3 separate regions of the Homo sapiens genome follow, and regions 1 and 3 are each reported to be linked to region 2. Evidence: microRNA targets listed by miRTarBase, many of them from high-throughput screens and not tested one by one. Region 2 holds a microRNA gene; each other region holds the end of a gene's coding sequence.

What was found. The annotated mature microRNA hsa-miR-378b reads ACUGGACUUGGAGGCAGAA and lies in region 2 at 1,367-1,385, opposite strand. An mRNA with a match to its seed (bases 2 to 7 or 8) in the 3' UTR can be bound and repressed. Matches are read on the target gene's strand: a 7mer-m8 pairs with bases 2 to 8, a 7mer-A1 pairs with bases 2 to 7 and ends in A, and an 8mer does both.
Region 1: the mRNA of SPA17 is a reported target of hsa-miR-378b. Seed matches in the 3' UTR shown: 7mer-m8 at 1,916-1,922.
Region 3: the mRNA of HAUS3 is a reported target of hsa-miR-378b. The part of its 3' UTR that is shown has no 7-base or 8-base seed match.

The regions. Positions count from the first base shown.
Region 1 is chr11:124,693,737-124,697,088 of GRCh38, forward strand. It overlaps SPA17 (sperm autoantigenic protein 17), which reads left to right. Exons shown (of 5, transcript NM_017425.4): 5 at 567-3,352. The coding sequence ends at 710. Among named protein-coding and RNA genes, the nearest start is that of SPA17, 22 kb to the left of the region's middle.
Region 2 is chr3:10,328,295-10,331,646 of GRCh38, reverse strand. It overlaps MIR378B (microRNA 378b), which reads right to left and starts at 1,418; the gene lies at 1,362-1,418. ATP2B2 (ATPase plasma membrane Ca2+ transporting 2) reads left to right here. Exons shown (of 23, transcript NM_001001331.4): 23 at 2,522-3,352. The coding sequence ends at 2,833. RefSeq lists an enhancer at 2,815-3,352.
Region 3 is chr4:2,229,522-2,232,521 of GRCh38, forward strand. It overlaps HAUS3 (HAUS augmin like complex subunit 3), which reads right to left. Exons shown (of 6, transcript NM_001303143.2): 6 at 1-2,639. The coding sequence ends at 2,406. The region is part of intron 2 of POLN (DNA polymerase nu); the gene reads right to left. Among named protein-coding and RNA genes, the nearest start is that of HAUS3, 11 kb to the right of the region's middle.

The DNA of each region.
Region 1 (3,352 bases), not on the chromosome of region 2:
ATAGCTAAAAATTTATACCCAATTTTTTTAAAAGAGGGTATGTGCCAAAGTTCAACCAACCCTGTTAAAACTGACATTATTGGACTAAATGGATTTCTCTTTGGCACCTCACTTTAAATGTATGACGATGATTAACTAATCATTGAGAAATTGAGAAGTTATTCTAATTCATTATATGTAATTGTGATTATTTTGAAACATAACATTTACAGTTCTTTCTTCTTAACATTTTTACCATGCCTCAAGGATTCTTTCTTGTCCCCCCAACCCCCCAAAAAATGTTGTTGCTCAGGAAACTTAAATAGGCACTATTTTAGGGGAAAGAAAGTTGGCAATGATCTTTTGTTGCAGAGACATATTAAAAGAGTGACAAAACAAAATGCCTGCTATTTTGGCATTTGCCATTTGGTACATATACAATGTGACAATATATGAAATTCCCTCAGGAAGCAACAGCTCTCAGATAGTTGCATCCCTAAAATGATTAAATTTCATCCATTTATTTTTGTGGCATCAAAACTACGCCATATTTAAAGAGTCTCTTACTTTTTCTCCTTTCGATGAAGGACTCTTCTGAGGAAGATAAGGAAAAAGAAGAGGTTGCTGCTGTCAAAATCCAAGCTGCCTTCCGGGGACACATAGCCAGAGAGGAGGCAAAGAAAATGAAAACAAATAGTCTTCAAAATGAGGAAAAAGAGGAAAACAAGTGAGGACACTGGTTTTACCTCCAGGAAACATGAAAAATAATCCAAATCCATCAACCTTCTTATTAATGTCATTTCTTCCTGAGGAAGGAAGATTTGATGTTGTGAAATAACATTCGTTACTGTTGTGAAAATCTGTCATGAGCATTTGTTTAATAAGCATACCATTGAAACATGCCACTTGAAGATTTCTCTGAGATCATGAGTTTGTTTACACTTGTCTCAAGCCTATCTATAGAGACCCTTGGATTTAGAATTATAGAACTAAAGTATCTGAGATTACAGAGATCTCAGAGGTTATGTGTTCTAACTATTATCAAATGAATAAATCCTCTCTATCACATCCCCCAAAAATGTTCTTTAGCTCCTGTTTCACTCCTAGTGGTAAAGAATTTCACTGCTTTTTAAGGATAGTCTATTTAATTTTGGAATTTTTAGAAAGATAAGCTGGGACAAAAATCTGCCTCCTTCAGCCTGGCCAACATGGTGAAACCCCATGTCTACTAAAAGTACAAAAATTGGCCAGGCGTGGTGCGCACACCTGTAATCCCAGCTACTCGGGAGGCTGAGGCAGGAGAATCGCTTGAACCTGGGAAGTGGAGGCTGCAGTAAGCCGAGATCGCACCACTGCACTCCAGCCTGGGCGACAGAGCAAGACTCTGTCTCAAAAACAAAACAAAACAAAAAAAAGCCTCTGCCTCCTTGTAAGTTTAACCCACTGGTTTTCATTTATCATACATGTATTCAATCATTTATTGAAAATGTATTGAGTACTATTCATGTGCTGGGAATTAGTAGTGAATACTTGTTCTTACACTCATACAACTTACAATGCTTTATTGTTTTGCTCTCCAGAACCACACAGAACAAGACTAATAACATCATATTGTAAAAAGCAAAAGCTATCATATCATGCTGCCTTCTTCAGTTAAAACTTCCCAAGTTTTTAAATATACAATGGTAATGCCTGTTTAACAAACTCAGAGGCTTTATCTCTTTTATGTTTTCAATGATTCATTCAAATCCCTAGTGCCTTAGTTTTAGAAAGTTCCGTCTCTCCTTTTTGAGGCCTCTCCACCCTTGATTGTCCAAGAAACTGAGGGTTCATGTCTTAGACCAAAGGGTGCAGTTCTCTTCCCAATACAAAAGGTAGAAAGTGGAGTCTTACCATTTAGTTAATGCTGTTGCCTTCTACCATAATGTTGTAGCATAGTCCAGCAGACTGAGGTGATTCTCTGGCTGGTTCCAATTCCTGCCTGCACCATAGTGGATGGCCCATGATTTAGTTCCAGGATTACATCTCTCTTGGTTTATAGTCACAAAGCCAGTGTTCCCCCAAAGCTTAAAAACAAGCCAGGATGGCTCAGTCCTGAGGAGATTCTAAAACCAGGTCTATGTTGTCACAACAAATACTCTCCTACAAACACTTTGATCCTTGTCCTAGGCTTAGACATGCTCTTTCTGCAAAGCAGTTTTATTTCAGGTGCCTCACTGCCCTTCCCTGGCACTGAGCCTTTATCAGGCTCTGCAACAGAGGTTCCCCCAAGTGATCGCCACTCAAACACAGTTGATTCACACCAACCCTTTCAAGGTTGTGGCTTTCATTCTCTAATGTCCACTCATACAGGCAGCCTTTCTCCTTCCAAAATCTTGCTGCCACTGTAGAGAGTTTCATGCTAGCTAAACACAAGTCTCTAATATCCCCCTTCCTCTCCTCCTTAACCCCTCTCCTCCAGGCTTACAGAGGAAAAGAAATCAGTTCTCCTCCAGGATTCCAGCTGTTCGTCCCTCCCATTCCACTGAAAGCACCAGCTTCTAACACCTTCCCCTCTCAGACAGAGCCATCCTGCTTAGCGGATTGTCAAGGGGGGACCCAGAATTTATGCAAAGACTTAGATTCCCTGACCTGGAGAGATCAGAAGAGGAAAAAAGGGATTTTTTCCCTAGTGAGTATATAGCAGGAAAAAAAAAAAAGATGAGTTAGCTTTTTCAGTAATTCTCCTGTTATACACATAAAGTGACTAGCACTATGCATTCCATACACACACACACACACACACAGATCTCATGGTAGTGATATTGGTAGTGAAGGAGGAAAAGGAAAAGGTGAGCAATGGATGTGATATTATGAGAACAACACATATGAATGACACTTTATTAGAACTTATCTGGTTTTCCTCTTATCTCTCTGGCTGTTCCTTCTCAATTCCCTTCACTGGTAACTCTTCAACTCCCCAACCACTAAATGCTAAGTGCCCTTAGGCTCAGTCTTTCGACCCCATTTCTACACTCACTTGATTTCCTGCAGTTTCATAGCTTTAAAATCCAATCTTCTTAATGATCACTCCCAGACCTTTCTCTCCTCTGCCTGCGAACTTCTATATTCAACTGCCTACATAACATCCCCATTTGGATGTCTATAGGCATCTCAAAAGTAACATATAAAAAATGAATCCTGATATTGCCCCCAAATCTGAAACTTCCCCCACACCCAAGTTTTTCCATTCAAAAATGGCTGCTCCATTCTTCCATTTGCTCAGGCCAAAAACCTTGGATTCATCTTTAATGCGTCACTTTCTTTCACACCCCATATACAATCTATCAGCAAAACCTGTGGGCTGTACCTATAAAATAATACTCAGAATCTG
Region 2 (3,352 bases):
TCCATTTCAGCCTCGGAGAGAACCGAAGTGGAGACTTGAGATGGCCGTGGCGGGGTGTCCCAAAAAGTCTCGTCCCCACAGTCTTGTCCAGAGCAGTTCATTTTTTCTGTTGTCTCCATGCCACGGGGAGGGCGGAGGGGCCTCATCTCATTGTGTGTCATCCCCTCTGCGTTGTCAGTCACATGACAGGGTCCTGCCACCATCCCCCTGCCCCACACATACACTAGGTGTTCCAGTCAGCATCTGAATTGCACTTCAACCTCAGAACACACTGAGCACCAGGCTAGGCAGCTACAGCCTTGATGCTATTCCCATTCTACAAACAAGAAAGCTGAGGCCTGCAGCGCCTTCTTTGTTTTCAGTTAATCAAGGTGTAACGGCTCACTTTTCAGGAGATCAGAATATGAACCATCTCTGCAGAGCCACAAAGAGGGACTCCAGGGGGAAAGAGCTCAGAGCAGCCACAGTGGCCATGATGGAGCACCAGCATAAAGGCCGTGTCTGGCTGGCTCTTATTTGGCACTTGTTGCCTCTTATTTAAAGCACAATTCCAGCAAGTGGGGTACCCTGGAGTCCCAGCTCACAGTATGCAAGGTGAAAGGACAGAGGTGCTTTTCAGAAAACAGAAAAGTCAGCACTAACTAGTAAGCGATGACTGACAGCAAGGGAGAAAAAACAAGACAATCCATGGGGTCTTACCTAAGACCAAGAAGGATAATTGACAAAGCTTATGTTAAATTCTTCTCTGTGCACTCTAAATTAGAAGTCAGAGGAGCGTATGACATGCTTTAGAAAGAATTCCCTCTGCAACAGTAAAACAAACCTTCAGCGATGACACTTAAAATCATCAACCACAGTCACCTAGAAACTCCACTTCCATAAAAGAGGGCTTTCCCCACCAGGGTTTCACAAAGGAGCTACCCCTGGGTTCCGCTGAGAGCTCAAGTCCTGGGACTTCAGGGGCCTCCCCACGACCGTCTCGTCCAGTCCCCTGCCTCCCCGCAGGCCTGTGGTGCAGGGCAGCCACTGCTCTGCAGGTGGGTGCCACTTGGCCTGCACACAGCAGCCGACTAAGGCTCTGTCCTGGAGGCGCCAACGCCGCCTTGTTTTCTCCACCTCTGACTCCACTCCGAGTTGGGGCTGGGACGAGAGGAGGAGGCACCTTTGTCCCAAGTCCCATCAGACTCTTGAGATGACAGGCACTGCTGCCCCTCCCAGGAGTCCAGAGAAGGGACACCTCTCTTCCAAGTGAGGGTCCCGTCCCTCTGCACCCTGTGAGGCAGGACAGAGGACAACCAGAGAGCTAGTGTGGCTTGTCCACAGTCAAGGCACCAGATGTGGCAGAGCCAGGATGCAAGTTGGGTCTTTCTGCCTCCAAGTCCAGTGCTCTTTCCACTAGCCTTGAAGACTCAATGACCAGCCTCCTCCCATTCTTCAGCGGAGGAAACTGAGGCCCCAGGACGTGTGGTTCACAACTGAGACAGAAAATGAAAGAACTTGCTGTTTTGTGACTCAGTTCCACACACCCCAGAATCCCACTGGGGCTGGGTTTGGCCATCTGATTCCAGCCTCGTTTTTTGGTTTTGTGTTTTCAAAGCACAAATAAAGAAATAAACAAAATCCCCCAGGAAATAAGAGACCCCAAAGCAAGCTCCAATAACTGGCCGGCCAGGGCTTTGAGTCTATACTCGAGTGTTTACCTCCCAAATGCATGAAGGAAAGAAACGCTGGGTACAAACGACCTCCGTTCACATTGTCCAGGCTTCCAAGTGTAGCCGTGTGTCTGTCTGTGTGTGCCATGTGGCTCCCGGCCTCCCCGTGGCATGCAGCCCGCCCCCGAATGTCATCTGTCCGCCAGCTCCCATGTGCTTTCTGGCTGCCTCTGCTCTGCACCTCAGAAAGCCCTGGGTTGGCTTTGGTTTGCTTTGCTGCCTTTGGTTTGATGTTCCCGTTCTGTTTGGCCCTCATGTGTCTCTCTCATCCCAACTCATCCAACCGTCTCTCCTTTCTGTGCCTTTTCTGTTTGTGACACGTAACATGTTCCATGTTGTATGGTTTCTTAACTGTGTGTGGTTTTCCTAAGATGAATTTTTTTAATAGCCTCTCCTCTTTCCTACTTGATTCCCACCTGGTCCTCCTCCCTGTCTGCATGGTTGAACCTCTGCTTTAAAGTGAACAAGGCTCAGTCTCTCACTAGGTGTGGGTGCCCGCAGGAGTCGACTGTGCTTCCTTTAACCACTGTTCCCCATCATCTCTTTGATGGTGCTTGGTGATTCCTCCTGTCCTAACACTAGTTTCTACCAAAACCAAAGAGATTTTTAAAAACCAGCTCAAGGATGCCTATAACCTGAGCCCCCTTTTTCACTCTCCCCCATCCTGTCAATGCTAATAACACCCAGCGACTATGGATTCCAGCCACCTGCTTTGCCCTAACCCTTCTCCCACCCGCCCCTCCTGTGAGCCCCCCGAGCCTGGCTGTGGTCCCTGGGCAGTGCTCCTGACCCCTGTGCTTCCCTTGCAGATCCGCGTCGTGAAGGCGTTCCGTAGCTCTCTCTATGAAGGTTTAGAAAAGCCTGAATCTCGAACCTCCATCCATAACTTCATGGCTCATCCTGAATTCCGGATCGAAGATTCCCAGCCCCACATCCCCCTCATTGATGACACCGACCTGGAAGAAGATGCCGCGCTCAAGCAGAACTCGAGCCCGCCGTCATCCCTCAACAAGAACAACAGCGCCATCGACAGTGGGATCAACCTGACGACCGACACAAGCAAATCAGCTACCTCTTCAAGTCCAGGGAGCCCCATCCACAGCCTGGAGACGTCGCTTTAGCTGAGGACCCTCTCGCCTGCCCGCCCGCCCTCATGGACCCCGCTGCCACCCGCTTTCCGGGCACCCATCCATCCAGGCACCCAACTCACCCAAGCAGCAACGAGCAACAATCGGAAACCAAATACTGGAGAGAAAACCAACGTTTCCACCCACAGACCCTTTCTCTGGCTGCGATGCTGTTTGAACTCTTTTTCACTTCAAGGCAAGGGGCGGGATCTCCACTGGGGGCTTACGGGAGTGAGCGGTTTTCCCAAAACAAGCCCTTCCTGGCTCCCACCCAGACATGGACCAGCCATGCACCCGCCCAGCCACCACGTCCCCCGCATGAATGTACTGTACACTTTCAATCCTCCCCTTGTTTGGTTTTTGGGGGTTGGGGAGGGGTTTTTGTTTGTTTGTTTGTTTTCTTAGGCGGGAACTGCAAACAGACTCTTTTCTGAGACTATTTATCCAATCCACTGGTCTGTGAGTTTTTGAAATGCTTGCACAGCATGGTCTCAGTTGTATAGATTAATTTAA
Region 3 (3,000 bases), not on the chromosome of region 2:
ATGTTATTAAATCTTCAAATAGGCTGAGCGCGGAAGCTCATGCCTGTGATCCCTGCACTTTGGTAGACTGAGGCGGGTGGATCACCTGAGGTCAGGAGTTCGAGACCAACCTGGCCAACATGATGAAACCCCGTCTCTACTAAAAATACAAAAAATTAACCAGGCATGGTGGCACCTGTAATCCCAGCTACTCGGGAGGCCTGAGGCAGGAGAATCACGTGAACCCAGAAGGCAGAGGTTGCAGTGAGCTGAGATCATGCCACTGCACTCCAGCCTGGGCAACAAGAGTGAAACTCCGTCTCAAAAAATAAAAAATAAATAAATAAATAAATAAATCTTCAAATAAACCTACCTAGTAACACAACGATTATAAGTAACTTGGGTAATTACGGCAGACACACAACTACCATCCGTGCCTTGATCTGCCCTGCTGGCCCCCTGGGCTGAGCAAGTCAAGGTTTGGGTGGGGACAGTATAAATCAAGCATCTGGGCAGGGGCATGGTGGCTTACACCTGTAATGCCAGCACTATGGAAGGCCAAGGCGGGTAGATCACTTGAGGTCAGGAGTTTGAGACCAGCCTGACCAACATGGTGAAACCCCGTCTCTACTGAAAATACAAAAATTAGCCAGGTGCAGTGGTGCACGCCTACAATCCCATCTACTCAGGAGGCTGAAGCAGGAGAATCACTTGAACCTGGGAGGCGGAGGTTGCAGTGAGCCGAGATCATTCCACTGAACTCCAGCCTGAGTGACACAGTTAGACTCTGTCTCAAAAATTAACTAATAAATCAAGCGTCTGGCCACACATCTAAATATGTGACACTAATTTAAACAGAATATGCTACCATAAACCAGGAAACCAGGTGACATATTTTCCACATTTTTGGAGAAAATAAAAATTTTAAGTAAATTCTCTATTCCGAAATAGAATAGAAAAAAACATATACAACAAAAAAAAAGTTGCTCAGGTGATAGGGAGCTGATAGCAAAATCTTAAACAAAATTTACTGCTACAAAATTAAGGTTTACATAAAATTTTAAATAACATAAACACAATAATTGGCAAAATATTTTTGTTCAATGGGTTTCAAAAATCAAGAAGGTTCATCTGTCATCTAGGTATGCCTGTTTTCTGATGGTTATAGCTAAAAAATTCCATAAAGACCACCCAAAACATGTAGTTTTTAGATTGGCATTCCATATTACGAACAGGTGAGGAATATTCTTAAAGGTATTCCTACAAAGCTCACATGGTATTTACCACAGGCCATGTATAAATTGGGCACTCAAGAAGCATCTGATGTAATAACAGATGAGCTACTTCAAATTATTTTAGAGCAACGCTTAAAATATTTTCTGGCTGCCCAAATACCATTGTTAAATACAATTAGACATTTTTGCTCTTAAACTGATTAAAATAGTATCATACATCTTTTGAGCAACCACTTTTACAGAATTTTGAAATTCAAATTTCATTTGAAAGTCATTTATGATGTGTAAGTCACATTAAAGTCAAAGCACTGCTCAGCTGTCTTGTAGAAACTTTTGAGTCCCCAGAATTCAGACTCTAAAATGAATGCAGGCAGGCCAAGGAAGTCCTAATACTCTGTGGTACAAGTAGGGACATTAAAACAGCCTAAAGGTCTATAGCAGGGAATTATGGAGGAATACAATTTGAGCAGCAGAATTTTATTTGACAGTCAAACATGAGGGGACTTGGCTATTTCACATATTAAGGTCTACAGATTTAAAAATGCTGACTAGAAGTTCTACACATTTTAAAATATTTAATAGCGGCTGAGCGTGGTGGCTCATGCCTGTAATTCCGGCACTTTGGGAGGCCGGGAGAGGGGATCAAGAGGTCAAGAGATTGAGACCATCCTGGCCAACATGGTGAAACCCCTTTTCTACTAAAATACAAAAAAATTAGCTGGGTGTGGCGGTGTGCGCCTGTAGTCCCAGCTACTTGGGAGGCTGAGGCAGGAGAATCACTTGAACCCGGGAGGCAGAGGTTGCAGTGAGCCAAGATCGTGCCACTGCATTCCAGCCTGGAGACAGAGTGAGACTCTATCTCAAAAAAAAATTTAACGGCAGAAAATTTCTATTTCTAAAAAGGAGAGAGATAACTATATTAAAAAATATTTGCATTATGTAATAATGCTTTTTCCCTGTAAGTAAAAAATTACCAGGACTAAGTACCACTAAACACATGCTCAAGTCATAAAAAGCACTGGTATTCTGAATGTACTACATGAGAAAAAAGACAAATTAATATAATAGTTCAATTCATCAAATTAAATGTTCCATTGACCTCAAATTTTAAAAATTTAGTAGTGTTTATTATACACAGTCTTCTAATAAATAAAAGAGGACACGTAATAAAGATTCAGTTTTCAGTAATTTTCAATCTTCAAGACTAACAGCCTTAATCTTTGATTGAGTTTCTAAATTCTCCACAATATCTTTCAGATAATCTTCATCTTTTAAAAAATATACATAGAATTCTCTTTCCATTTGATGTAATTTATTATTTGCCAAAGTTTTTCTTTTTGTCTTCACATCAGCAAGAATATCAGTGAGGAGATGATTTAGCTTATTCAGTTGAGATTCAACTTTATGAAACTGCTCTGTTAACTCCTAAAAAAGGAAAATAAAAATAAAAATTAAAACACTTTATTCCTAATACCAATTATAAAATTAAAATATAATTTACATGGAAAGACTTTAAAGGACTTAATAACTTCCCGCAATTTTAGCAATAAATAAACCTCGATTTAAAATCCATAACAGGTTTAATATAAATTCTAAGTAAGATTAATTGCAACAACTTCTGATAGATAATTTTAAGTGATTCAAAGGAAACTCTTGCTGAAGTGTACTCGATATGTAAGCTGTTCTGTGCATTCATATATTCAACAAATGCTATTGTGCCAAGTACTGTTTTAGAGATTACTGATACAAGAATAAACAAAATCTCCCTGATGGAGCTTATATTCTG